4 linked regions of the Homo sapiens genome follow. The protein of the gene in region 1 purifies or fractionates together with the protein of each later gene. This does not show direct contact. Each region holds a gene or a part of one and is shown in the gene's direction. Other genes may lie near its edges.

The links.
Region 2: the proteins of EIF4B (region 1) and EIF3B purify together in Homo sapiens (affinity purification with mass spectrometry; 3 studies listed by BioGRID and IntAct, with this or other methods). This does not show direct contact.
Region 3: the proteins of EIF4B (region 1) and EIF4G1 fractionate together in Homo sapiens (co-fractionation; 4 studies listed by BioGRID, with this or other methods). This does not show direct contact.
Region 4: the proteins of EIF4B (region 1) and EIF3H purify together in Homo sapiens (affinity purification with mass spectrometry; 3 studies listed by BioGRID and IntAct, with this or other methods). This does not show direct contact.

The regions. Positions count from the first base shown.
Region 1 is NC_000012.12:53,009,442-53,016,467, forward strand, and holds part of EIF4B (eukaryotic translation initiation factor 4B), read left to right. Parts: intron 1-7,026. UniProt on the Homo sapiens protein: Required for the binding of mRNA to ribosomes. Functions in close association with EIF4-F and EIF4-A. Binds near the 5'-terminal cap of mRNA in presence of EIF-4F and ATP.
Region 2 is NC_000007.14:2,364,808-2,371,833, forward strand, and holds part of EIF3B (eukaryotic translation initiation factor 3 subunit B), read left to right. Parts: intron 1-1,509; coding exon 1,510-1,641; intron 1,642-1,717; coding exon 1,718-1,784; intron 1,785-2,126; coding exon of another isoform or gene 2,127-2,150; exon of another isoform or gene 2,151-2,165; intron 2,166-2,191; coding exon 2,192-2,238; intron 2,239-4,664; coding exon 4,665-4,875; intron 4,876-6,969; coding exon 6,970-7,026.
Region 3 is NC_000003.12:184,324,580-184,331,605, forward strand, and holds part of EIF4G1 (eukaryotic translation initiation factor 4 gamma 1), read left to right. Parts: intron 1-298; coding exon 299-535; intron 536-689; coding exon 690-794; intron 795-900; coding exon 901-1,060; intron 1,061-1,116; exon of another isoform or gene 1,117-1,192; intron 1,193-1,271; coding exon 1,272-1,372; intron 1,373-1,947; coding exon 1,948-2,050; intron 2,051-2,301; coding exon 2,302-2,404; intron 2,405-2,636; coding exon 2,637-2,869; intron 2,870-3,006; coding exon 3,007-3,125; intron 3,126-3,250; coding exon 3,251-3,423; intron 3,424-4,051; coding exon 4,052-4,177; intron 4,178-4,329; coding exon 4,330-4,411; intron 4,412-6,686; coding exon 6,687-6,785; intron 6,786-6,892; coding exon 6,893-7,026.
Region 4 is NC_000008.11:116,745,811-116,752,836, reverse strand, and holds part of EIF3H (eukaryotic translation initiation factor 3 subunit H), read left to right. Parts: intron 1-5,710; exon of another isoform or gene 5,711-7,026.

The DNA.
Region 1 (7,026 bases):
TTGAGATTGCACCACTGCCCTCCGGCCTGGGCGACAGAGCGAGACTCCGTCTCAAAAAAAAAAAACAAAAACAAACTTTAAAATTGGAAATAACATATGTAAGCTCATGCACAGGCCTTTCATTTCCATAATGCTTCAAAATGCAGTCCTGTGTGACATCTTATTTGATTATTTTTATAGGGAGAAGATGCTCTGCAGTGGTTGTTTTCATACACTGCTGACTCTCACAGTGAAATGGTTTTAAGGGGTGCCATTATATATTGCTTACAGATTCCCTAGTGTCAAGTTCCATCCTCTATCATGTATATGTTATTCTGTGAGTAAGATACCCAGAAGGCCAAAATTAAAACTCTTTATGAAAGTTTAAATACAAATACAGAATAGTGTCAATTAAGATAAAGCAGTGTTTCTAAGTAATGTCATTGAAAAAAGAGGTATATTTCATCTCAAAACATTCTGGAATTCTCTTTTCGTGATGGTAGAGGAAATAACTGAACTTGAGTACAGTATTTTAAGTAATTATTTGTAATTAGGTTTGCCTTATGTACATTTATGAGCCAGTTTCTTAAATTTGTAGTAGATACTGCTATGGTCCTGATAGTGGGAAAGTACCAAATCAAGAAGTTTAACTTGAATTTGTGTACCTCCTGTCTCCCATTTTGTGTAATGGTTAGCATGGCATGCATTGGGCACTTATTTTGTTTGATTATGTATATGATCAAATTGAGTATCCCTGGAGGGATAAGGAAAAGGTAGTATGGCATCTTCTGTCAAAATGAAGTAATTGGGCACAGAGAGGTCATGTAACTGAACCCGTACGGGGGTCAAGATGGTGGAGCTTATGAGTTTTGACTCAGTCTTTACTATGCTAAACTTACCCAATCCCCAACTAAATCAAAAGGTGGCTTGCACTGGGATCTTTTTGACTTTACAATGGGTTTATCCGGATAGTAAATGCATTTTTTTACTTGAGAAGGGTTTATCCTGACAGTCTCATCATAAGTCAGGGAGCATCTATATAGTGCAGTAAAGGTGAAGGTGAAATATTGTATTACATTGCATGAAATGTCTTTTCATGGCTGGGCTGTAAACACCAATATAATTAGTCTAATTCTAGGCACTCTGGGTGGATCGATTGTGTTTATGCAATGTTGTTGGTTTAGGGAAACATTTGTTATTCATTATTTAAAGTAGCTTTTGTTTTGTTTGTTTTTGTTTTTGTTTTGAGACAGAGTCTCACTATGGCTCAGGCTGGAGTGCAGTGGCGTGGTCTCAGCTCACTGCAATCTCCACCTCCTGGGTTCAAGCGGTTCTAGAGATGGAGTTTCACCATGTTGGCCAGGCTGGTCTCGAGCTCCCGACCTCAGGTGATCTTCCCACCTTGGCCTCCCGGAGTACTGGGATTACAGGCATGAGCCACCACACCTGGCCTAAAGTAGCTTTTAATTATGGAGAATGTGGCAGAACTCACTTTTAGTAACAGCTTTATTCAATGTAATTTGTATACCATAAAATTTACACTTTTAAAGTATACAGTTTGGACCGTGTGCAGTGGCTCACTCCTGTAATCCCAGCACTTTGGGATGCCAAGGCAAGAGGATCACTTAAGCCCAGGAATTCAAGACCAGCCTAAGTAACATAGTGAGACCACGTCTCTACAAAAAAAATTTTAAAAATTAGCCAGGGGTGGTGGCATGTACCTGTGGTCCCAGCTACTTGGGAGGCTGCAGTGGGAGGATTGCTTAAGCCCTGGAGGTCAAGGCTGCAGTGAGCCATTATCTCACTACTGTACTCCAGCCTGGGTGACAGAGCAAGACCCTGTATGATTTGGTGGGGTTTAGTATATTCAGAGATGTTCAACCATCATTATTATCTAATTTCAGAACCTTTTTATCACCCCCAAAGAAAAGTCCTTTATATAGGACTAACAATTCCTTTTCATTTATCTTTTTATTTATTGAAGTGAAACATCACTTAGAACATGGTTCTCAGCTAAGGGACAGTCTTTTCATCCCAAACCCTCATCCCACCCCAGAGCATTTGGCAGTGTCCAGAGACGCTTTTGGTTGTCAGAGTGGAATGGGGATCGGGGATTACTATTGGCATCTAATGAGCAGAATCAGAGATAACTGCTAAAATCCCCCCATGACAAATTACCTAAGCTAAAATATCAGCAGTGCTGAGATAGAGAAACTCTGAGTTAAGAAGTAGGCTGTATTTATTTTAGTATCTATTATAACAAATCCTGTTTATTAAGAAAACCATGAATGTGTTGTCTCTTGTTTAACGGCTTCTGGACTTAGCAATATTTCCGTTTTTAAGATCTTTTATTAAACCTGTATGGGTATATAAAGAGCTGGAGGTGTGTTTTCCCCACTGTAGACCATGTATAAATAATTGGGACAGGTTTTGTTTTGTGAGGTGATTGATTTGTTAACTTTTTAACCAGTTCACATAAGATTTAGAGAAAATTAAAGAATTGGACCAGTTCATTGTTGAATTGCAAAGGATTGATAAACCTGGAGCATTAAACAGTGCTTTACTTATAAAGCAGAGGGAACACTGTTGAAATCTAAACATGTAATGGGCCTAGGTATTGAGGGAGCAAAGGGCATGGAGGATTTAGATAACATCTTTTCTCAGTTAACTGGAATGAAACGGAGTGGAACAAACACGGGCACCTACTTTAGGTTTATTGATTTTGCTTTCCAAGGGCTAATTCCTTTAAACCTGCTGCTTATATTTTGACTGAGTCAGTGCTGCTGCTACAGTTAAATAAGTTGAAGATCTTGTAAGGAATTTTAGCCTGTTTTTTTAAGACTCATCTAACAGGTGGGGCGCAGTAGCTCAGGCCTGTAATCCCAGCACTTTGGGATACAGAGGCGGGCAGATCACCTGGGGTTGGGAGTTGGAGACCAGCCTGACCAACATGGAGAAACCCCATCTCTATTAAAAATACAAAATTAGCCAGGTGTGGTGGTGCATGCCGGTAATCCTCGCTACTTGGGAGGCTGAGGCAGGAGAATCGCTTGAACCCGGGAGGCGGAGGTTTCGGTGAGCCGAGATTCCACCATTGCACTCCAGCCTAGGCAACAAGAGCAAAATTTCTGTCTCAAAAAAAAAGACTTATCCAACAGTAATTTCTTTTTTTTTTCCTTTTTTTTTTTTTCTTTTTTTTGTGGGGGACGGAGTCTCGCTTTGTAGCCCAGGCTGGAGTGCAGTGGCACGATCTCAGCTCACTGCAAGCTCCGCCTCCCGGGTTCACGCCATTCTCCTGCCTCAGCCTCCCGAGTAGCTAGGACCACAGGTGCCCGCCACCATGCCCGGCTAATTTTTTTGTATTTTTAGTAGAGACGGGGTTTCACCATGTTAGCCAGGATGGTCTCGATCTCCTGACCTCGTGATCCACCCGCCTCGGCCTCCCAAAGTGCTGGGATTACAGGCGTGAGCCACCACACCCAACAGTAATTTCTTAACCAGAGGGCCTGGGAGTGGGTGGCAATCAGAGGAGGGGGAGACTTGTGATTTGAAAAGACATTCTAAGATTTAAAAGTGCTTTTAATATTTTTTAGTCATGATATTTAATTTGTTTGGAAATTTCAAATAACGTTAAAGAAGAAACTTGTTTGTCAAAGGAGTCAAGGGGTGAGAGTTGAGAAACTGTGATCTACAAAGTTGATTTAAGCCAAATCGGACTAAAGGGCAGATTAATTCCACATTCTGCTGTTTTGGTAGAAGATACGTATATAGAACAAAGAGGAAAGGGATACCTTATTCAGATTGTTAATGTTCTTTTGTTGAACTTGACCTTATTGTACTGACCACCAGTTCTGTTTTTATCCTCCCAGTGGAAGGACAGGTTAATAATTGGATATTAGCTGATGGTACTAGATTAAGCCCCATGAGGGTAAGGATCTGTAGCTAGCATCATATTAATCCCAGACACTATTTTTGAATTAAATGATATGAAAAAGTCTAAAATAAGCCCACGCACTGTAAGTGGTTTACCTCATGTCTTACTCGTGTTCGCTTATTAAAATCTCCCATAGATCTTTGCATATGAGGCTGGGCACAGTGGCTCATGCCTGTAATCGCAGCATTTTGGGAGGCCGAGGTGGGTGGATCATTTGGGGTCAGGAGTTTGAGACCAGCCTGGCCAACATGGTGAAACCCCATCTCTACTAAAAATACAAAAATTAGCCAGGCTTGGTGGCACATGCCTGTAATCCCAGTTACTCAGGAGGCTGAGGCAGGAGAATCACTTGAACCTGGGAGGCAGAGGTTATAGTGAGCCAAGATGGCGCCACTGCACTCCAGCCTGGACAAGAGTGAGACTCCCTCTAAAAAAAAAAAAAAACCTTTGCATATGAGCTGCAGCAATAAAAGTGCTATGAGACCCAACCTCTCTGTAACCGTATTCTTTGAAAGCTGTGGAATAAGGCCAAGTGCAGTGGCTCACATCTAATCCCAGCACTTTGGAAGGCTGAGACGGGTGGACCACTTGAGGCCAGGAGTTGAAGACCAATCTGGGCAGTGTAGCAAGACCCCTGCCTCTACAAAAAATTTTAAAATTAGCTGGGCATGGTGGTGCATGCCTATAGTCCCAGCTACTCAAGAGGCTACAGTGGGAGAATTGCTTGAGCCCAAAAGGTCAAAGCTGCAGTGAGCCACGATTGCACCACTGCAAAAAAAGAAAAAAGAAAAAGCAGGCCGGGCGCGTTGGCTCACGTCTGTAATCCCAGCACTTTGGGAGGCTAATCACGAGGTCAGGAGATCAAGACCATCCTGGCTAACACTGTGAAACTAAAAAAAAAAAAAAAATTAGCCTGGCGTGGTGGCACGCGCCTGTAGTCCCAGCCACTTGGGAGGCTGAGGCAGGAGAAATTGCTTGAACCTGGGAGGCGGAGGTTGCAGTGAACTGAGATCGCGCCACTGCACTCCAGCCTGTATGACAAAGCGAGACTCCGTCTCAAAAAAAAAAAAAAAAGCGTAGGATGGATTCAAAATGTGATCTGGTTGATCATAAACAATACTTTTGGAGCTGGATTAATATTAAGTCACTTGAGAGATACAGAAAATACCATGTTCGTGGTCAACTTTGATTATTTTAGCCGGGTTCATCTGGTTTGCACATTGAGACCGTAATACTTCAGGTTCTAATTGTGTCCAGAAGGCTATGTGTTAACATTCATAGCAAACTGGTTACCTTTATTTCCTGAAAGTTAAATTTTGAAAGAAAGGGATACCAAGTGAGAAAGCAACCTTCAGTTAAACAAAGGGGTACATCAAGTTTGATATTCTTGGATTAAAAATCAGGTGACAATTGGAACATGGAGGAGAAATTCATGATTATAAAAACCATGAAGCCAATCTTTTTTACAACAAAGCTGCTTGTTTTTTTCTTAATCATGTAGTGGCTGCTATCAGGCCAGTTCTGGAACTTCACTGAGTCCCTCTGCTCTTCTGAATCAGCTCTTGATTGGTGGTGACTTCTCGGAAGTTCTGAGGACCACAAAGAAAGAGCAGTGTCAGTTCACTAAGTTGAGCCATTTGGAGATTACTAAATATTCCATAACTGTGGGAAACACTTAAATGTGTTGGTTATTAGGGTTTTCGTGTGTTTTCCTTTTAGCATTACATCCTCATATGCAGTGTTGTTATAGTAGAGGAGGACATTTTTTCTAGAGGGCAGAGAGATCTAGGGAATATGACTGTTAACATTTGAACACTTTCAAATAGCAGTACGTTTTACTGTGGTTTTGATAACCTGACATAGAATAAGCTGCTGAGATGCAAGGATACCTTGGTATATAGAAAGAGCCTTAGACTTCGTATGAAAAAAACTTAGGTTTTATCTTCAGCCTAGCCATCTAATGTCTCTGTAACTTTACAGACATCTGGTGTTTCACTTAACCTCTCTGAGACTTAGTTTCCTTTTCTGTAAATTGATAGTTGTGGCCAGGCACCATGGCTCATACCTGTAATCCCAGCATTTTGGGAGGCTGAGGCAGGAGGATCACTTGAGCCTGGGATCCTCCAGGATACTTGAGACCAGCCTGGGCAACATAGGGAATTAAAAAACTTTTTAAAAATCAGCTGGGCGTGGTAGTGTGCCTCTGTGGTCCCAGCTATTGAGGAGGCTGTGGGAGGATCACATGAGCATGGGAGGGTTGAGGCTTCAGATAGCCGTGGCCACACCACTGCACTACAGCCTGGACAACAGAGCAAGACCCTGTCTCAAAAAAAAAAAATGGGGCCGGGTGTGGCGGTTCACACCGTAATCCCAGCACTTTCGGAGGCCGAGGCAGGAGGATCACCTGAGGTTAGGAGTTCAAGACCAGCCTGGCCAACATGGTGAAACCCCGTCTCTACTAAAAACACAAAAAATTAGCTGGGCATGGTGGCGGGTGCCTGTAATCCCAAGTATTCGGGAGGCTGAGGCAGGAGAATTGCTTGAACCCAGGAGGCAGGGGTTGCAGTGAGCCGAGATGGCACCATTGCACTCCAGCCTGGACAACAAGAGCAAGACTCTGTCTCAAAAAAAAAAAAAAAAAGACAGTTGTGATTCCTTCCCTATATGGTTTGTTTACAAGTGTCAAAACAGTCTTCAAAACTGCCATACTGAATATGTTATGTGAGATACGAATTTTTATTGATCTTTTTTATCCAAAGAGCAGTGAAAGTAGTAACTGAATAGAAGTAGTTACAAAATTAAAGATCTCAAATGATAAGTGAATATAGTAGAAAATAAAAGGTTGCCCCCACACTCCAAACATACTCTCCAGGGTGTATCTCAAACACTCAGACCCTTTTCCGTACGTAAACATGTGTTTACACATAATAGGTATTCTGCAACTTTTAAATTTCTTATTTATGTCTGCATAGTACCCCTTCATGGAAATGCCATAATTTAACCATTTGAGGAGCGTCCATGTTATTTCTTTCTAAATAATGTTTTACAATATTGCATTGTACAACTCTGTAAATACCTGAGTATTGGTGAATAATCTTTCTCTTGCCTTTTAA
Region 2 (7,026 bases), on another chromosome or scaffold:
GACCATAGTGTGGGTACTGACTTCAGGGATTTACCATTCATTTAATACTTCAATGTATTGCCATATTCTGATTTTGTTACTTGACCTAATAATGTTCTGTATAATACTTACTTTCCTTCAGTTCAGGATCTAGTCTAAGGTCACGTATTTTACAGATAATAAATTGTCCTTCCTCTATCACCCAGGCTTGGCGCCACCCAGTGGCACCATTGCAGGCTCATTGCAACCCCAGCCTCCCAGGTCAAGCGGTTCTCCCACCTCAGCCTTCCTGAGTAGCGGGGACCGCAGGCACACGCCATGACATATGGCTAATTTTATTTTTTGTAGAGATGGGGGTCTCACTTTGTTGTACAAGGTAGTCTTGAACCCCTGGGCTCAAGTGATCTCCTGCCTTGACCTCCCAGAGTGCTGGGATTACAGGCGTGAGCCACCGCACCTGGCCGAGCCGTGATTTTTGATCTAGCTAATCCGGCTGTCGGAGGCCTGCTAGGGAAAGGGGCGGTTGTGGGAGGCAGTGTGAGGCGAGCTGGGGCCACTCTAGGGAAAGGGACAGTTGTGGAAGGCAGTGTGAGGCGAACGGGGGCCACTCTAGGGAAAGGGGCAGTTGTGGAAGGCAGTGCGAGGCGAGCTGGGGCCGCTCTGTTTTCGCCCTCATGGGTTGTGTCTGCCTTCCCCTCTGGTGTTGTAAGGGACCGTCTGTTACACACTTTGTGTGAACTGAGTAAGCAGGTGCAGTAGCTCCAGACAAGCCAGCAGTCAGGTAAATCATGGCTGGGAGGAGCCCCCAGGCTCTGAAGTTTCTATCAGACCTGTGCTGGCTTTCGAACTGGATGGGACTTGTTTTTTTGTTTGTTTGTTTGTTTGTTTGTTTTGTTTTTTTTTTTTTTGAAACTGAGTTTCATGCGTCGCCCAGACTGGAATGTAGTGGCACGATACCAGTTCACTGCAACCTCCACCTCCCGGGTTCAAGCTATTCTCCTGCCTCAGCCTCCTGAGTAGCTGGGATTACAAGTGCCTGCCACCACGCCCGGCTAATTTTTGTATTTTTAGTAGAGACAGGGTCTCACCATGTCGGCCATGGTTGGCCAAGCTTGTCTTAAACTCCGGACCTTGGGTGATCCACCCACCTCGGCCTCCCAAAGTGCTGGGATTACAGGTGTGAGCCACTGCGCCCAGCCGTATTTTTTTAACTTGTTAGTCTTTATTAAACATGGGTAAAGATAGAGTTCCACACTGCGCCACCCTCTGGATCACTTAGCAGCCTTGTGTGGGATCGGTGAGATCTTCTGTGCTGATCTTGGAGAAACCGGAGCGCCTGCAGCGTATTGACACCAGAATGAACAAGCGCCGCTGCTTCCCGCTTCCGCTTGGGTCTCTTGGGGCCGGGCAGTGTGGGGTTTGGGGAGAGAGCTGGTTCCGCGAGTTCTGACGGCGTGTTCTGGCCGCACAGACAGACTGTGATCCTCTCGTGAGAGGAGGATAGTGTACAGTGTTGCCCTTCTCTTCTAGGTACCTGGTGACCTTTAGCCCCCTGATGGACACGCAGGATGACCCTCAGGCCATAATCATCTGGGACATCCTTACGGGGCACAAGAAGAGGGGTTTTCACTGTGAGAGCTCAGCCCATTGGCCTATTTTTAAGTAAGTGGACCATTGTAACGAGCTCTGTAGCCTTTGTCTTTTCATGGGAATACCCTGGCACTTTTGTTTTTCTTAGGTGGAGCCATGATGGCAAATTCTTTGCCAGAATGACCCTGGATACGCTTAGCATCTATGAAACTCCTGTAAGTGGCCTCAGTGATGGCAAACGCCCCGTCCGGTCCTTGCTTGTAACCGGGGTGTGGTGCCTTTCCTTATTTGTGCTAGAAGAGGAGGAGGAGGTTTCACAGATGCATAGGAAAGGCCTGTCTCCTGTGCCTTTTTAACTGCCCCTGCTCTGGGCAGAGCTCTTCAGTCACTCCTGCCCACCTGGCGCAGCCGTGGGAAGTCCTGGATGGGAGTTAATGCAGTGGGCTTCAGAACTGCAGTTCTGGGTGGCGGGTGGGTGGATGGGTTCACTGTCACGCTCTGTGTGCACTGCCCCCTAGGCAAACTCACATCAGACTCTTGTTTCCTTTTGTAAAAAGTTAGGTGTGTTTCTGAGACACTGACATGATTTGACTCAACTGCAGCCTTCCTTTTTTTTGGGCAGTCTATGGGTCTTTTGGACAAGAAGAGTTTGAAGATCTCTGGGATAAAGTGAGTATTCTTATCAGTTTGGTGTCTTAGTGTGTTCAGGCTGCTTAACACAATACCAAAAAAAAAAAAAAAAACACAATACCATAGGCTGGGTGGCTTATGACAGCTGAGATTTCTTTCTCCCAGTTCTGGAGCTTGGGAGCTTGAGGTCAGGGTGCCTGCAGACTGTCTGGTGACGGCCCACCTCCCTCCTAGTGGACAGCCCCTCGGTCCAGCCTTCCCTGGAGGAAGGCCTCCGTGGCCTGTTCTGTAAAGTCTCTCATCTCATTCCCAAGGGCTTCCCCCTCAGGACCTCCCACCCCCCAAAAGGCCCCACCCCATGCCGTCACCCCAGGGGGTTAGAATTTCACCCTGTGAATCTGGGGGACACAGACGTGGTCCATTGCAGTTGGTTTCCTTTATTTGCTGTCTCTCCTTTAGCACTCAGCTTTTTGTTGTTGTTGTTAGAGACAGAGTCTCGCTCCGTCAGGCTGGAGTGCAGTGATACGATCTTGGCTCGCTGCAACCTCCACCTCCTGGGTTCAAGTGATTCTTCTGCCTCAACCTCCCGAGTAGCTGGGACTACAGGCATGTGCCACCAAGCCCGGCTAATTTTTGTATTTTTAGTAGGGATGGGGTTTCACCATGTTGGCTGGGCTGGTCTCAAACTCCTGACCTTGTGATCTGCCCGCCTCAGCCTCCCAAAGTGCTGAGATTACAGGCGTGAGCCACCATGCCCAGCCTGTCACTCAGTTCTTAACCAGTTGGAGAGAAAACGGTGAGTTTGTTCTTTTTTTAAAATTTTTTTTTTTTTTTTTTTTTTTTTTTTTTTTTTGAGGCAGAGTCTTACTCTGTCTTGCAGGCTGGTGTAGAGTGGCGAGATCTTGGCTCACTGCAATTTCCACCTCCTGGGTTCAAGTGATTCTCCTTGCCTTAGACTCCCAAGTAGCTGGGACTGCAGGTGCCTGCCACCATGCCTAGCTAATTTTTGTATTTTTAGTAGAGATGGGGTTTCACTGTGTTGGCCATGCTGGTCTCAGAACTCCTGACCTCAAGTGATCTGCCCACCTCAGCCTCCCAAAGTGCTGGGATTACTGGCGTGAGCCACCACACCCAGCCATTTTTAAATCTTTTTTGAGACAGAGTCTTACTCTGTTGCCCAGGCTGGAGTACAGTGGCGTGATCTCGGCTGACTGCAGCCTTCACCTCCCAGGTTCAAACGATTCTGGTGCTTCAGTCTCCTGAGTAGCTGGAATTACAGGCGCGCAACCACTACGCCCAGCTAATTTTTTGTATATTTTAGAAGAGTCGGGGTTTCACCATGTTGGCCAGGCTGGTCTCGAACTCCTGACCTCAAGTGATCCGCCTGCCCGCCTCAGCCTCTCAAAGTGCAGGGATTACAGGTGTGAGCCACCGCGCCCGGCCTAAGGTGAGTTTGTTCTGGACACAAGGATGGAGGCTTGAGTCAGTGGGCAGCAAGGCTGCTCAGCATTGGGCCCGCCACCCTTGAGGCACCACTTCAGTGACCCCTTCCCGTGCCTAGAAATGAATTTTCAAGGCCAGAGCCTTGAGTCGGCTTCCTTCCATCTACCTCGTCTTTGATCTAGAAACTGAGGAGGGTGGGGTTTCCAGCCTTTTAAGGAAAAGAGGGGACTCTGCTTAGGTGAAAGGTTTTCCTGGTACTCTTCCATCCGAGGCAGGGTTTGGGGAGCCTTCGGCTCATTTTCACCAGCAAAGAATGGGCACGTTTTTATTTATCGCAAAACTTGGGACTGGTCAGTATCACGGCAGTGAACTTCCAACAATCCAAGGACATTGACGTTTCTTCTTTCGTTTTTACATTCTTGGGCAAAATTATGGCTTATAAAATGAAAAGACCAGGACGTTGGTTCTCAAAAAATGCAAAACAGCACATAGCGTGTATAAAGATGTTTTTCATGTAGGTGAGCTCAGGAGCCGTTCGTTACAGCAGCTCTTCTGTAGAGTAGTTGATAAAGTGGAGGGAGCTGCCCTTGTTCTTGCTCATTCCTTACACTTGATTTGCCATTTTCCCCATTTGCACCTTAATTAATCTTTAGATGACATGTAGCCAGATCCGTCAGCCTAAAACTTATTTGCCTCAAAGCAGCAGTGTGCGGTGTCTTAAGAGTGGGCTGACGGAGCCCAGGCTGGAGTCCATATGAGTCTGTGCGTGATGGTGGGGTTGCTAATATTCTGTCTGCATTCACTCCTTGTCACAGTGAGCACAGTAGTGCCACAGGGTCCTGGCGAGGACCTATGAAGCTGCGCGGCATGCCCAGAGCAGTGGCTGTGCAGAGGGAGCGCTCAGCGTCAGCTGTGACAGCATTGAGCTTCTATATAGCAAATGAGTTGTTCTATTCTCTTCTGCTTTTCAGTTTCGTCATCACTTGGTCTTTGCTTTAACATTTTATTTTCCTGTTCTGCAGAGACTTTTCTTGGTCTCCTGGTGGTAACATAATCGCCTTCTGGGTGCCTGAAGACAAAGATATTCCAGCCAGGGTAACCCTGATGCAGCTCCCTACCAGGCAAGAGATCCGAGTGAGGAACCTGTTCAATGTGGTGGACTGCAAGCTCCATTGGCAGAAGAACGGAGACTACTTGTGTGTGAAAGTAGATAGGACTCCGAAAGGCACCCAGGTATGTAGATTCCCACAGGAACTGACGATTCCTTATCCTGAGCTCTGAAGTGGCCACCGTATTGTTTGGAGGGTGTTAATGGATTTTTTTTTTTTTTTTTTTTTTTTTTTTTTGAGATGGAGTCTCACTCTGTCACCAGGCTGTAGTGCAGGAGTGCGATTTCGGCTCACTGCAGTCTCTGCCTCCTGGTTTCAAATGATTCTTCTGCCTCAGCTTCCCAAGTAGCTGGGACTATAGGCGTCCACCACCACGCTTGGCTAATTTTTGTATTTTTATTAGAGACAGGGTTTCACCATGTTGGCCAGGCTGGTCTTGAACTCCTGACCTTAGGTGATCTGCCCGCCTTGGCCACCCAAAGGGCTGGGATTACAGGCGTGAGCCACCGTGCCTGGCTGAGAATATTATTTTCTTTCTAAGCACAAGGAGTAGTATACTCAAGATTTATTTTTTTATTTTTTTATTTTTGGTGGTTGATCATTTAATATTTATTTTATCAAAAAATTGCCTGAGTTGGCTGGGTGTAGTGGCCCATGCCTGTAATCCCAGCACTTTGGGAGGCCGAGGTGGGCGGATCATGAGGTCAAGAGATTGAGACCATTCTGGCCAACGTGGTGTGAAACCCCATCTCTACTAAAAGTACAATAATTAGCTGGGCGTGGTGGGAGGCTCCTGTAGTCCCAGCTACTCGGGAGGCTGAGGCAGGAGAATCGCTTGAACCCAGGAGGCAGAGCTTGCAGTGAACAGAGCGAGATTGCGCCACTGCACCCCAGCCTGGCGACAGAGCCAGACTGCGTCTCACAAAAAAAAAGAAATTCCTGAGTTTTCCCTCTAATAGAAGTATTCTTCTTTCTTTTATGTTAAGAAAGCTTTAATTGACATGTAGTTCACATGCCTGAAAACACCCCTTTAGAGTGGTGAACTGGTTCAGTGGTTTTTCGTGTGTTCAGAGTTATGCAGCCACCACCACTCATTTCAGAACGTTTTCATCGGCTGGGTGCGGTGGCTCCCCCGGGGTGGGAGGGAGGATAGCTTGAGGCTAGGAGTTTCAGACCAGCCTGGGAAACACAGTGAGACCCCATCTCCACAGATAATTTTTAAAAGATAGGAAAAAGGCCGGGCACGGTGGCTCACGCCTGTAATCCCAGCACTTTGGGAGGCTGAGGCGGGGCATCACAAGGTCAGGAGATCGAGGGTTTAGTAGAAACCCCGTCTCTACTAAAAATGCAAAAAATTAGCCAGGCGTGGTGGCGGGTGCCTGTAGTCCCAGCTACTCGGGAGGCTGAGGCAGGAGAATGGCGTGAACCCGGGAGGCGGAGCTTGCAGTGAGCCGAGATTGCACCACTGCACTCCAGCCTGGGCAACAGAGTGAGACTCCGTCTCAAAAATAAATAAATAAATAAATGTTTTTGTCACCCTACAAAGAAACAACATACCTGTTAGCAGCCTCTCCGCCCAGCTCCTGGCATCACGAATGTCTATGATTTCCCTATTCTGAACACACAGCTGGAATCGGATACTATGCCACCTTCTGTGTTTGACCTCCTTCACGGAGCACAGCGTTCCCACAGCTGGTCCACGGTGCTGAGTGTCAGCAGTAATCTCTTGTTGGGTGGACCCCGTTTCTTGGCCTCCTTCCTCTGTTGATGGACATCAGGGCAGTTTTCCCTCAGACTCCTCGAGTAGGGCAGGACTTCTTGAAGGTTATGGCTACAGGACACCCCACTGTCTGAAGTGGTTTACCCAGCCCCATTGGTGTGCCTTTAGGGCCCTCAGGACCCTGGCCTGCAGCCTGCAGTGTGGACCCTGGGACTGCTTGTGCCCAAGTGTGGCGGGCAGGGCGGCTCCTGGAGGTGGGATCTGGGTCAGAGTTACTTCATGCATGTCCAGTGGCTTCCAGTAGACGTGGTGCCGGCAGTTCTCCAGCCTTAGAACCGTCTTCCATCCTGAGGGCTGTGGCTTTCATCACTGCACATGCTCGTGTGTGAACCAGGCATGCACACTGAATCTTTCATTGTGACGTTGATCTTTGATTTAAACCTTTTCTCATATTTTCACTGTCCAGAATGTCACCCCTTCCCCCTTTTTTTTAAACAGGGTGTTGTCACAAATTTTGAAATTTTCCGAATGAGGGAGAAACAGGTACCTGTGGAT
Region 3 (7,026 bases), on another chromosome or scaffold:
CTCCCAAGTAGCTGGGATTACAGGCATGTGCCACCATACCTGGCTAATTTTTTTGTATTTTTAATAGAGACGGGGTTTTACCATGTTGGCCAAGCTGGTCTCAAACTCCTCCTGACCTCAAGTGATCCGCCTGCCTCAGCCTCCCAAATTGATGGGATTACAGGCATGAGCCACTATGCCCAGCCAGCCGGCCTCAGGACTGAGTGCTTATTGCTAGGTTTGGATATCCAGGTAGAAAAGGGTTTTAGCCGAGTGGCTGGTTATCTTTTTGACACAATCCCTGTCCTGTGAATGGCAGGCAGAGGAACGAGGACGCCTGAAGGAAGAGCTGGAAGAGGCTCGGGACATAGCCCGGCGGCGCTCTTTAGGGAATATCAAGTTTATTGGAGAGTTGTTCAAACTGAAGATGTTAACAGAGGCAATAATGCATGACTGTGTGGTCAAACTGCTTAAGAACCATGATGAAGAGTCCCTTGAGTGCCTTTGTCGTCTGCTCACCACCATTGGCAAAGACCTGGACTTTGAAAAAGCCAAGGTAGAGGTCCTTGCATCTGGAGGGGGATGGGCTGAAGCATATGTGGGGCTCACTGAGCCCACAATGATGGGGCGGAAGGCCTGAGGAGGGGTGGGGCCTGCAGTTATAGGTGGGACATGAGAAGTTCCTGGTCTGATGCCTTTCTCCTTCCTAGCCCCGAATGGATCAGTATTTCAACCAGATGGAAAAAATCATTAAAGAAAAGAAGACGTCATCCCGCATCCGCTTTATGCTGCAGGACGTGCTGGATCTGCGAGGGGTGTGTGTCCCCCTCCTCCCCACTGCCAGCCTGCTGCCTCCAGTTTCTGACACTGCCTTGTCTTGCCTTCCCTGACATCATCGTGACTGGCCCTCTGTCTCCACAGAGCAATTGGGTGCCACGCCGAGGGGATCAGGGTCCCAAGACCATTGACCAGATCCATAAGGAGGCTGAGATGGAAGAACATCGAGAGCACATCAAAGTGCAGCAGCTCATGGCCAAGGGCAGTGACAAGCGTCGGGGCGGTCCTCCAGGCCCTCCCATCAGTGAGTTCCAAGCTGGGATTGAGAAGGGAGCAGTGAAGGGACCGGGAGGTTATACTTTCCTCTGATGACTTCCTGTTAGTGCCACGTGTCTGGGCCACTGAGACACCATGATGGAACTGAGGATCTGAGGAAGGGAGGCTGGGGGTGGCCCAAGGGGAAGGGGCTGCTAGGATTTATTCATTATTCCAGTATGCCCCTCTTTTTGTGTCAGGCCGTGGACTTCCCCTTGTGGATGATGGTGGCTGGAACACAGTTCCCATCAGCAAAGGTAGCCGCCCCATTGACACCTCACGACTCACCAAGATCACCAAGGTAGGGGTGTGTGTGGGAGTGGGTGATTCAGCTCAGGTTTAGATCTTAGTCCCTTCACTTTTCTAAAGTTGAGAAGGTGACAGCTGAATGTTTCCTCTTAGACTAACTGGTTGGATTGCTGGAGACAGGACTGCCAGCTGTAGAGGGAGGGTGGTACTCCCATTAGTCTGGACCAGTGTTTGGCAAACACACACACACACACACACACACACACACACGTGCCAGATCCAGCCCATTCATACATCCCAGGACCCAGTAGTGGTTTTTACATTTTAAAGTTGCGAAAAATCAAAAAGTGAATGGTAATTTATGCTGTGGAAATTAAATAAAATGTAAATGTCAGTGTCCATGAAGTTTTATTGGAACACAGTCACAGCATGCCTTTATCATCTACAGCTGGTTTCATGCTACTGTGGCAGAATTGAGTAGTTGCAATAGAGACTGGCCCTTTATTAAAAAAGATTTTCTGACCCCTGGACTGGGCCATTCACTACCTGTTTGGTTGCATATGGTGGTGCTGGCCAAGGGACTCAGCCGGGTTGGACCTATGATTCTACTCCCCTTTTCTTCTTCAGCCTGGCTCCATCGATTCTAACAACCAGCTCTTTGCACCTGGAGGGCGACTGAGCTGGGGCAAGGGCAGCAGCGGAGGCTCAGGAGCCAAGCCCTCAGACGCAGGTATGGAGGCAGTGTCAGGAGCTGGGTGGTTACCCGTCAGAGCTCCCTTGAGGACAGAGCCTTTTCTGTTAGGGAGGCCTTCAGTACAAGGTGGTTAGGCAATGCGGGCAATAGAGGAGGTTTGTGTTGTGGTTCCAGGGATTGAACTGCTTTACTTTTGGGACTGGGACCAAGTGTCCTAAACTGGCAAGTAGGGGATAAAATGCAGGAAAGGAGAAAAAGATTTTAATACGGATTTTCTGCATCCCCAGCATCAGAAGCTGCTCGCCCAGCTACTAGTACTTTGAATCGCTTCTCAGCCCTTCAACAAGCGGTACCCACAGAAAGCACAGATAATAGACGTGTGGTGCAGAGGTGAGGTTTCCTGGACATCTTTGTTATTCACACTGGGGGTACCGTGATTGGGTTCTGGTTGTTGCCATAGGTTGGAAATTTCTTCATACCTGTCCTGGTTGGAGCCCTTGGGTTAGATTGGGGCATACTCATTATGCTAAGAACAAGGCCCAACAGTTGCTCAGCATGTTGTGTAATTACATGAGTGCCTGGGCAGTGCAAGTGAGTGAAAATTTGTCTGTCTGTCTTCCAGGAGTAGCTTGAGCCGAGAACGAGGCGAGAAAGCTGGAGACCGAGGAGACCGCCTAGAGCGGAGTGAACGGGGAGGGGACCGTGGGGACCGGCTTGATCGTGCGCGGACACCTGCTACCAAGCGGAGCTTCAGCAAGGAAGTGGAGGAGCGGAGTAGAGAACGGCCCTCCCAGCCTGAGGGGCTGCGCAAGGCAGCTAGCCTCACGGAGGATCGGGACCGTGGGCGGGATGCCGGTGAGAGTCTGGGAGAGGAATGGAGGGAAAGGCATTGGCTGCCTTGGGACTAGCTGGTCCCCAGCTTTTTGAGAGCTCCAAATCTTGTTTGCTGGGAAGACTGAAAAGTCCCTCTAATCTGTGTTCTCTTCCCACAGTGAAGCGAGAAGCTGCCCTACCCCCAGTGAGCCCCCTGAAGGCGGCTCTCTCTGAGGAGGAGTTAGAGAAGAAATCCAAGGCTATCATTGAGGAATATCTCCATCTCAATGACATGAAAGTAGGCAGTGGGAGCGGCGTGTGATTGAGGAGTGGGCAGGGAGGGATCATGCTGGCAGGCATAGGGGTCCGGGGTCTGGGTCAGACAGTGACTGGTCTCTTCCTGCTGTGCCCTGCACCCCTCAGGAGGCAGTCCAGTGCGTGCAGGAGCTGGCCTCACCCTCCTTGCTCTTCATCTTTGTACGGCATGGTGTCGAGTCTACGCTGGAGCGCAGTGCCATTGCTCGTGAGCATATGGGGCAGCTGCTGCACCAGCTGCTCTGTGCTGGGCATCTGTCTACTGCTCAGTACTACCAAGGGTATGACCAGCTTCTCTGGGCCTCCCACTTATACAGACCCACAATTTTCTATCTCCTTTTTGGGACCCTTGGAACCTTGCATAAGAGTGTAGGTTCCCTGGCCGGGTGTGGTGGCTTATGCCTGTAATCCCTGCACTTTGGGAGGCCAAGGTGGGTTGGATTCCTTAGAGGATCACGTGAGGTTGGGAGTTCTAGACCAGCCTGGCCAACATGGTGAAACCCTGTCTCTACTAATAATACAAAAATTAGCCAGGCGTGGTGGCACAGTAATCCCAGCTACTCGGAGGCTGAGGCAGGAGAACTGCTTGAACCCGGGAGGTGGAGGTTGCAGTGAGCCGAGATCGTGCCATTGCACTCCAGCCTGGGTGACAAAAGCAAAACTGTCTCAAAAAAAAAACCAAAAAACAGTATGGGTTCCTTGACCATCCTGGTCAGCATAACTTTAGGGGGTTAAGCGGGGTGAAAACCATCTAAGGACACAGAGGTGGCCTTAGCTTGAAATAATTGTCCCCATGTCTAGAAAATGTTCCTGGGGGTTCCATAGTTGATGCCCTAGCCATGCCACGTTGCCCCAGAAGGAGAGTGGGGACCTGGCCTAGAATGTCTTGACTTTGAATTCCCTTGGCAGGTTGTATGAAATCTTGGAATTGGCTGAGGACATGGAAATTGACATCCCCCACGTGTGGCTCTACCTAGCGGAACTGGTAACACCCATTCTGCAGGAAGGTGGGGTGCCCATGGGGGAGCTGTTCAGGTAAGTCCCCCTGGGTGGAATTCAGGGGAGGTAAAGACCAGAGGAAAGGTGGTAGGGAAATGGCTGGGTTGGATACCCTGGTTTGGAGGGAGATGGAGTAGTGGTGAGAGAACTGTGGAGGCTGTCAGCATTAGGTTTTTCTCTTCTTGTAGGGAGATTACAAAGCCTCTGAGACCGTTGGGCAAAGCTGCTTCCCTGTTGCTGGAGATCCTGGGCCTCCTGTGCAAAAGCATGGTGAGTGAGGGCCAGGAGTCCAGAGATGCCTCCCACGGTGTGGTTTTGGCTGTTTGCTGTGGCCCTGAAGCTTCATGGTCCATTGGTGGAGTGGAGTGATGGTGATGACAGGATTGTGTTGGTACCTGGGAGAGGAAATACTGAGGTGGGCCATCTCCCGCACACCAGTTCCTATCATGAGTTCTGGCCAAGACTGGAGGAGAATGGCAGTCTAAGACCCTAGGCCTGTGATTGATGCATTTATTTATTCATTCATTGAACTAGGGTTTTGTTGATGATCATTTATCATATACTAAGCACTAGGGACACAGCAATGAATAAAACACAAGAAACAAGTTGGTAGAGAAAAAGGAAGAAATGGGCCGGGCGCAGTGGCTCACGCCTGTAATCCCAGCACTTTGAGAGGCCGACGTGGGTGGATCACGAGGTCAGGAGTTCAAGACCAGCTTGGCCAATATGGTGAAACCCCATCTCTACTAAAAACACAAAAATTAGCCGTGTTGTGGCAGGTGCCTGTAATTCCACCTACTCAGGAGGCTGAGGCAGGAGAATCACTTGACCCGGGAGGCGGAGGTAGCAGTGAGCCGAGATTGTGCCACTGCACTCCAGCCTGGGAAACAGAGCAAGACTCTGTCTCCAAAAAAGAAAAAAGAAATGACAGCTTGATAAAAACAACAGTAAAGCGTGACATAAAACAGTTGAAATAGAGTGGAGTATCTTAAGTACTGTGGGGTTGCAAAGGAATATTTGACAATATTTGTGACAGGAGGCTTTCAGGGTGCTGAAGCGGCTTTGTGAAAGTTAATTGGTAACTAGCGAATATAAAGGTAAAGAGATGGGGAAAGGTAAGTTGAATGTGGTACTTAGTGGAAGTGAGAAGTTGGGGTGAGTGTGTGCAGTTTCAAGGGTTCAGCCATCTGGAACCTGGAGGAATCACACTTGGGATTTAAAGGAATTGTTATGTCAACATCATTTAATTCTTTTAAATAGACGTGTACCAGGACAAGTTGTTTTTTAACAACAAATAAGCATATTGAACTATTTGTGTATTTCATCAACTCCAAGGTGCCATAGATTATAAGACATTCTTTATGCGCTGTTAAGAAAGAAAAGACTGGGCCGGGCGTGGTAATCCCAGCACTTTGGGAGGCAGAGGTGGGTGGATCACGTGAGGTCAGGAGTTGGAAACCAGCCTGGCCAACATGATGAAACCCTGTATCTACTAAAAATACAAAAAAATTAGCTGGACATGGTGGTGCGCACCTGTAGTCCCAGCTACTTGGGAGGCTGAGGCAGGAGAATTGCTTGAACCCAGGAGGGGGAGGTTGCAGTAAGCCAAGATTGTGCCACTGCACTCCAGCCTGGGCGACAGAGCAAGACTCTGTCTCAAAATAAAAAAAGATATATATCGGCTGTAAGACAACTTTTAGTTAAAATGTGAAAAAATGGGCATGTTTTAAAATCTGTGAACTGCAATAATCTTGCTAAGAGCCAGTGCCATTAGTCTGTTATAAAGAAAAGAGTGATGTCTTCATAGTCTATTGCCCCTTACAGAAAATGCACTCAGACTGCTGGTTTTATGAGGATTTTTTATTTGTGTTAGGGATGGGGTATATTTGTGTCTTAAGATTTTCTGGGTTTAGGAAACAAGCATACTTGTTAGAAGTTGTCCCTTCCTAGAGGCCCTTACATCATTTTTCCTACCCTAGTGTCATAGCACTTTGGTGGACAAGTTCTCTTTTATTTTATTTTATTATTATTATTTTTTTGAGACAGAGTCTCGCTGTGTCGCCCAGGCTGGAGTGCAGTGGCGTGATCTCAGCTCATTGCAACCCTCGCCTTGGGTTCAAGCGATTCTCCTGCCTCAGCCTCCCGAGTAGCTGGGATTACAGGCACCCACCACCACGCCTGGCTAATTTTTGTATTTTCTGTAGAGACGGGGTTTCACCATGTTGGTCAGGCTGGTCTCCGACTCCTGACCTCAGGTGATCCGCCCACCTCGACCTTTCAGAGTGCTAGGATTACAGGCGTGAGCCACCGCCCGCTCCTGGGACGAGTTCTTATTTATTTGGGTGGTTATTTGACTGACATCTGTGCCCTGCACCAGACCGTAGGAATGGAAGGGCTTTGCCTATTAGTATTTCTATAGCATCCTTAATGCCTAGCAAGTACCTAGTAGGCTTTCAGTAAATATTTGTTGGATTAATGTGGTAGAGCTGTTGGGTCCTTGGAGAGAGAGAGCTTTGGTAAGCTGGGTTGGTCTTGTGTTTTCCAGGGTCCTAAAAAGGTGGGGACGCTGTGGCGAGAAGCCGGGCTTAGCTGGAAGGAATTTCTACCTGAAGGCCAGGACATTGGTGCATTCGTCGCTGAACAGGTTTGGGGATGGAGTTGGGTTAATTCTAGCATTTGAGGCTGGCCAGTCTTCTTTCTTGTCTCCTGTTGGCAACCTTACCTCTTAACTGCGGGCCTTTTCCATTGCAGAAGGTGGAGTATACCCTGGGAGAGGAGTCGGAAGCCCCTGGCCAGAGGGCACTCCCCTCCGAGGAGCTGAACAGGCAGCTGGAGAAGCTGCTGAAGGAGGGCAGCAGTAACCAGCGGGTGTTCGACTGGATAGA
Region 4 (7,026 bases), on another chromosome or scaffold:
TCTCTTTCCTTCCTTCCTTCCTTCCTTCCTTCCTTCCTTCCCTCCCTCCCTCCCTCCCTCCCTCCCTCCCTCCCTCCCTCCCTCTTTCTTTCTTTCTTTCTCTTCTTTCTTTCTTTCTTTCTTTCTTTCTTTCTTTCTTTCTTTCTTTCTTTCTTTCTTTCTTTCTTTCTTCATTTCTGTCTTGATGAACAGTGTTACTCTTAGGAAAGCAATATTACATACTAGCCAAGAGAATCTTGACGACAGACTTGGATTCAGATCCTTATTCCAGCAGTAAGCATGACCTTGGGGAAGTTATTAAATTTTCTAGGCCTCAGGTGTATCCTTTGTAAAATGGGGATGATGATAAAGTAGTAACTCATAAGGGTTGTGAGAATGAAATTCCGAGGTATTTAAAGTGTTTAGTATAGTACCTGTGTCATCGTAAACACTCAGATTACTGTGTCTTTACCACTCTCATCCTTATTAATGTTTCTCAAATCATTTCGAATGCTAACTTTGCTAATGTAGATTGGAATTGTAGAAAGAGCACTTCAGTGCTCCTGGTAATCAGGAGACATGCATTCCAGTCTGCATCCACCAGTAACTAACAACACTTCTATGATTGTTTTACTCCAAAGGTACATTTTCTCATCCACAAAATGATTGCCACTATCCCTATCAATTTTCATGGTTTATGGTTTCTTTCTTTTGCTTTCATACCTGAATCCTGAGGGTTCTTATTGGTGTGTGACCCCAGTCAATCACTATCCTTCCTTTTAGGCCACTTACTCCTTTCCTTTTATGTTTCTTCTCCATCTGTGCATATTGGAGTGCCTCATGGTTTAGGTTTTGGCTTTTCTTTTAGTCTCTGCTTGACATAGGTAGTGTAACGAAGTTGATAAAAGTACATGCTCTGGAGCCAGACTGCTTGGATTTGAATCCCAGCTCTGAAATTTGCTGCATGACATTGGGCAAGTCTTTGTGCCTCATTTTCCTCATCTGAATTGTTTTGAGACTTTAAATGGATTGAATATATGTCAATAACTAGAACAATGTCTGGGACAGAATAAGTCACCATTTAAGCTTTGCTGCTGCTTTATTTGCAGTAATTATAGTAGTATTCTTTAAGGTATTCTTATCTGTGCTCACGGCTTTAAATATTTATATTCTAATAAGTCCTAGATTTATATTTCTGCCAGTAATGGCTCTTGAATGCCTCTTTTGAATACCCATTGCCTGTTTGACGTCACTATTTGGATATCTCATAGGCATCTCATATTTAACATGTACAAAATAGAATTATAGACTTGTTCTTCTCCTTACTTTCCATCACAGCACCCTATATTTCTAGAATTTTCCACAGCCTGTAACTATCTTGTTTGTTTTCTTCTTTGTTTTCCTCATCAGAATGTATGCTACTGAGGGCAGGGACTATGCTTTTTCACCTGTTTTATCTCCAGTGCTGAACCTGTTAATTCACAAAGTAGGATAAATGAATGAGTATGTATTCCATTTTATTATTTATACTAATTTATGTTCTAATATCTTATGCAGGTTATTTTAATATTGTTTTCCCCTGCCTTCTTCAGTCTACCATTCATACTTTTATTTTATTTTATTTTATTTTATTTTATTTTTTTTTTGAGACGGAGTCTCGCTCTGTCGCCCAGGCTGGAGTGCAGTGGCGCAATCTCGGCTCACTGCAAGCTCCGCCTCCCGGGTTCACGCCATTCTCCTGCCTCAGCCTCCCAAGTAGCTGGGACTACAGGCGCCTGCCACTACGCCCGGCTAATTTTTTGTATTTTTAGTAGAGACGGGGTTTCACCGTTTTAGCCGGGATGGTCTCGATCTCCTGACCTCGTGATCCGCCCGCCTCGGCCTCCCAAAGTGCTGGGATTACAGGCGTGAGCCACCGTGCCCGGCCTCATACTTTTATTAAAACGTTTATTTAACGTGAACATTCAGATTTTAACTTCTTTCCTTAGATGTTTTCAGTGACTTTCCATTGAATTGAAGGACCAAAATGTTGTCCTTGTTTCTTGCATTTATGTTCAGGTTTATTTCCTTTCTTTCCAAGCTTTGTAGGAACTGTACATTCCAGCCCCTCAGACTACTTAGTTTTTTCTTTAATAAGTCATGCTAAAGGCCAGGTGTGGTGGCTCACGCCTGTAATCCCAGCACTTTGGGAGGCCAAGGCAGGCAGATCACACGAGGTCAGGAGATCAAGACCGTCCTGGCTAACATGGTGAAACCCTGTCTCTACTAAAAATACAAAAAATTAGTCGGGCGTGGTGGCGGGTGCCTGTAGTCCCAGCTACTCAGGAGGCTGAGGCAGGGGAATGGCATGAACCGGGGAGGCGGAGCTTGCAGTGAGCCGAGATTGCACCACTGCACTCCAGATTGGGCGACAGAGCGAGACTCCGTCTCAGAAAAAAAAAAAAAAAAAAAAAAGTCATGCTAAAGACAGACCTAGAGTCACATCCTTATTCAAAGCAGTAAGCATGACCTTGCTTTTGTTCATGAAGTTCTTTCTCTTTGAAATTGTTCTCTTTCATCATCACATATTGAATAAAAAATGTGACTTAATCGACTTACTCTGTTTTTTTAAAAATTCTCCATATAGTTTAACTTGAATCTGTATACTCCAGATGTATTCTGTTCTTCATTCATTTAACAAATATTTATTGATTGCCGACCACATGCCAGGTCTAGCCCTGCTACATGCTGGGGTATATTGCAGTAACCTATATAAGATATTATATAGGTGAGCAAGGTAGAACCCAGTCCCGACTCTCATGACCATTCTCAGTCATATATAGATGTAGATGAACCCAGAGATTAATCTCATCCTATGTTTAGCCTGATGTTTTAACACATTTGTTCCTTCCTGGCACATTGATAGTGGCCAAGACCAATTTTTCTTGTATTTTTGAACCCTTCCTTTCCTACCTTTAGACCTGTTTCATCACTTCCTCTGTATCTGTAATGTAGCAGTCCCTCCACAGGGCTTGTTTTCCAAAGAAAAGTAAGCCCTCCACAGGGCTTGTTTTCCAAAGAAAAGTATCATTTGGAGGAGCAAAGTTATAAGCCTACCTAAGCATGTCGTAAAGCTGTTCAAAAATAACTCAGAGCTAGTCTTGTGGATGGAAATGTAGTGCCTGAGTCACATTCTGCTTAAAGTTGTAACAAATACAGATGAGTTAAAAGAAAAAAAACAAAAATAAAGAAAGAATGGGTCTTCATTCTGTCAGGTGGTCTCATTGTTCCTAGACAAGATCAAGCTAATTCTTCCCGTTAAACTTTTCATGTTGAACCCACTTTGTTCCCTAGAACATTTGAATTTTACCTTTCTTATGTTCATTAGACCTTGCTATTCAAAGTATGATCCATGTCCAGTAAGATGAGCAATGTTGGCTACACTTGAGTTTGTTAGAAATGCAGACATACGTATCACAGAATCTCAGGCCCCTCTCCTGACCTACACAATCAGGTGATTTATAGCATTTTACTGTTTGAGAAGAAGCTTGCTCTCTTCCTTTCTCTGAGCTTTTTAATGACAGCTTGTATCATTCACCTTGGTATGTGATCCATACTGTTAGTGATTTACTGTTAATATATTTTCCCCTTCTCATTGAGATGATAACCCTTTTGAAGGCTGAAGTATAAAACATTTGTCTCCTCCATAATTCAGTGCTTGAAACCCATTGCTATTGAAATTTCTTACCTTTTAAATTTTGTTTTCCCCTTTAAGTTATCTTATTAGATACCTTATTCCCCTGGTTTTGTAAGTAAGGTAGAGTATGTTATTAATAAATAGAAAAGTATGAGTTACATATACAGTCAGCTCTCTATATCTTTGGATTCTGAATCCAGCAATCTCACATCCATGGATTCAACCAACCATGGATCGAAAATACTAGGAAAAAAACAACTAAAAATACAAATAAAAACCAATACAGTATAATAATTATTTACATAGCATTTACATTGTATTAAATGTTATATGCAATCTAGGGATGATATATAGGAAGATGTGCCTAGGTTATATGCAATAACTAATGCTACACCATTTTATATAAAGGACTTGAGCATCTGCGAATTTTGGTATCCAGTTTGGTCCTTGTTTCTGTCTGAAACTCTTTTTACTTGTTGCTTATTTCTTCACACTAGAATATCAGCTTCCTGAAAGTGGCACCCATGTCAGGTTTGTTCACTACAGTATTTCTAAGGGTCTAGAACAGTACCTCGTGTATAGAAGGCACTCAGATGTTGTGAATGAATGAATATACTCCTGTTGTGTGGAAATTTTCTTGAAAATCAATCATGAAGAAACTGGGTTAGTAAATGCTTGAGTGTTGGTGAGAAAAGAGCACACAGTTGAGGATAAGCTAGTTAGCTTTCTGGGCTTGTTCATATTTCTCCATCTTTTTATTTGTTGATTTCTTATCTGTTTGAAAAATCACTAATATTAATTGGACACCTATTATAAGACCCTGTACAGGGATGTTTGGTTAAATTTTGTGTTGTTTGGTTAAATTTTTTGTTAAATTTTAGATGTTGTGATCCTCACAACAGCTTTGGGGATAAATGTTATCACTACCTTACCTACCTGATGGTTATTCAAATCTAATGGAAAAATTTTGGTGGAAGTACTTTGTTTTTTATTTTGTTTTGTTTTGTTTTTGTTTTTTTTTTTGTTTTTGAGACAGAGTTTTGCTCTTGTTGCCCAGGCTGGAGTGCAATGGCATGATCTTGGCCCACTGCAACCTCTGCCTCCCAGGTTCAAGTGGATCTTGGCTCACTGCAACCTCCGCCTCCCAGGTTCAAGCGATTCTCGTGTCTCAGCCTCCCAAGTAGCTGGGATTACAGGCATGCGCCACCACGCCTGGCTAATTTTTTGTATTTATAGTAGAGACGGGGTTTCACCATGTTGGTCAGGATGGTCTCGAACTCCTGGTCTCAGGTGACCCACCCACCTTGGCCTCCCAAAATGTTGGGATTACAGGTGTGAGCCACCGCAGCAGGCTGGTGGGAATGCTTTGTGAGTTGAATCAAATACTTCGAATTTGTAATGCCAGGCTATCACATGTGTCACTGTAGATTTTTTGTGATACTCTTATGAATTTAAAGAGACTGGACAACAGCTTGTTTAAATTCCATTGAAATGGAAGCTCTTCTCTGAGATCCTGGTCTGAAGTATAATACAGTTTGGCCTTTTAATGTTTTAACAACAAAAAAAATTATATGACCCTTGGCCTCTTCTTCCAGTTTTCTGACTTGAGTGGTGCATACGTAAGTTGTTTGACATGTGAGATAATTTTTTCAGTCAGATAATTTGAAATCCTTTCAAGCACCAAAACTTGCACATTTTAGCTATTTTAATTATATGTGTTTCTGAAGTGTAATACATAATTTTCTGCTGCTTTAGTCAGAGAACATGGAACACAATCTAACCATGTTTTGATGGCATAGTATTATCATTAAGAACATGTTATTGGGCCGTGCTCCCGCCTGTAATCCCAGCACTTTGGCAGGCTGAGGTGGGCGGATCACCTGAGGTCAGGAGTTCGAGACCAACCTGGCCAACATGGCGAAACCCCATCTCTACTAAAAATACAAAAGAAATTAGCCGGGCATGATGGCGGATGCCTGTAATCCCAGTTACTCAGGAGGCTGAGGCAGGAGAACTGCTTGAACCTGGGAGGCAGAGGTTGCAGTGAGCCGAGATCACACCACTGCACTCCAACCTGGACGACAGGCAGAGACTCTGTCTCAAAAAAAACAAAAAAACAAAAAAACATGTTATTGAACCAGACAGGACAGTAGATCTGTCAAGAAATCCCTTCGGGTAGTCTGTTATTTCTATAATAAATGTCCCCTGTTGTTGAACTTTAGGTGCCTTGAGTGGTTTATGTTTCTAGTTGGTGCCTTTTTTGGTTGTTAAATTTATCTGTTTCTTATCCCCTTGCTTTTCAGGTTTTTTTTTGCTGTGAGTGAAAAACCAGTTATGCAGGATTATCTCTAACCTGAGTATTTGTGAGTGAGGATTAAATTCGTTATGCAGTCTGACATTTTGATTGCTTAGTTATATTTTTTGCTTAGGCAAGTAAGATGTTATTGCTTACAAATAGTAACTTTTTATAATAGAAAAATCATTTAGCGTACATTATTATATCTTGGTAGCTCCAGGAACTGGGCGGACTAGTATTATCTGGATTATACATGTGATTCTCCCACTCCAAGAAGCTGGGTGGCTTTTCAAAGACATAAAGTGAATATATCCTGGAGCTTGAATTCAGATCACATCTAGCCATCCTTGACTCATTTTCTTTTACATTTTATAGCAGCTTCATATACTTGAAGACCCCAGTAGTTATTCTGTGTTATGTGACAGGTACTGTTTTAAGTATTGTGTATTTATTATGGCATTGAAGCAATACAACAACTCTTTGATATAGGAACCATCATTATCCCTATTTTATCAATGGGGAGACGTGGGTACAAATAGTTTATGTGATTTGATTAATGTACAGATGGAGGAAATAGAAGTTAAGGTGTGTACAGAATAGTTAATCTAGTGCTTCTTGTTTGAGCATTGGGAAATATGTTTTTCAGAACTCAGGTGTCTTACAGACTTCTAACTTTAAAATGTATGAGAAAACATACATTAGAATCTTTACGTTTGATAATCAGTCATATTGTAGAAGATTTGTAGCTATAAGAAGTCAATTTAGTAAATATTCTGAAGTTTGGAAAAATGCAACCTTAAACTGCTGAGTTCACATATTAAGATACTGGGGATCAATAGTAAAGAAAATCAGCATATTAAGGAGCATTGGGAAGAGTACTGGTACGTGTCCCTAAGTAAGTTAGTTTACCTGCATTGGGTGGTAATTCTAAGTCCATCTGACTTTTCCTTTTTTTTTTTTCCTTTGAGACAGAGTCTTGCTCTGTCGACCGGGCTGGGGTGCAGTGGCCCGATCTTGGCTCACTGTGATCTCCACCTCCTAGGTTCAAGCGATTCTCGTGCCCCTCAGCCTCCCG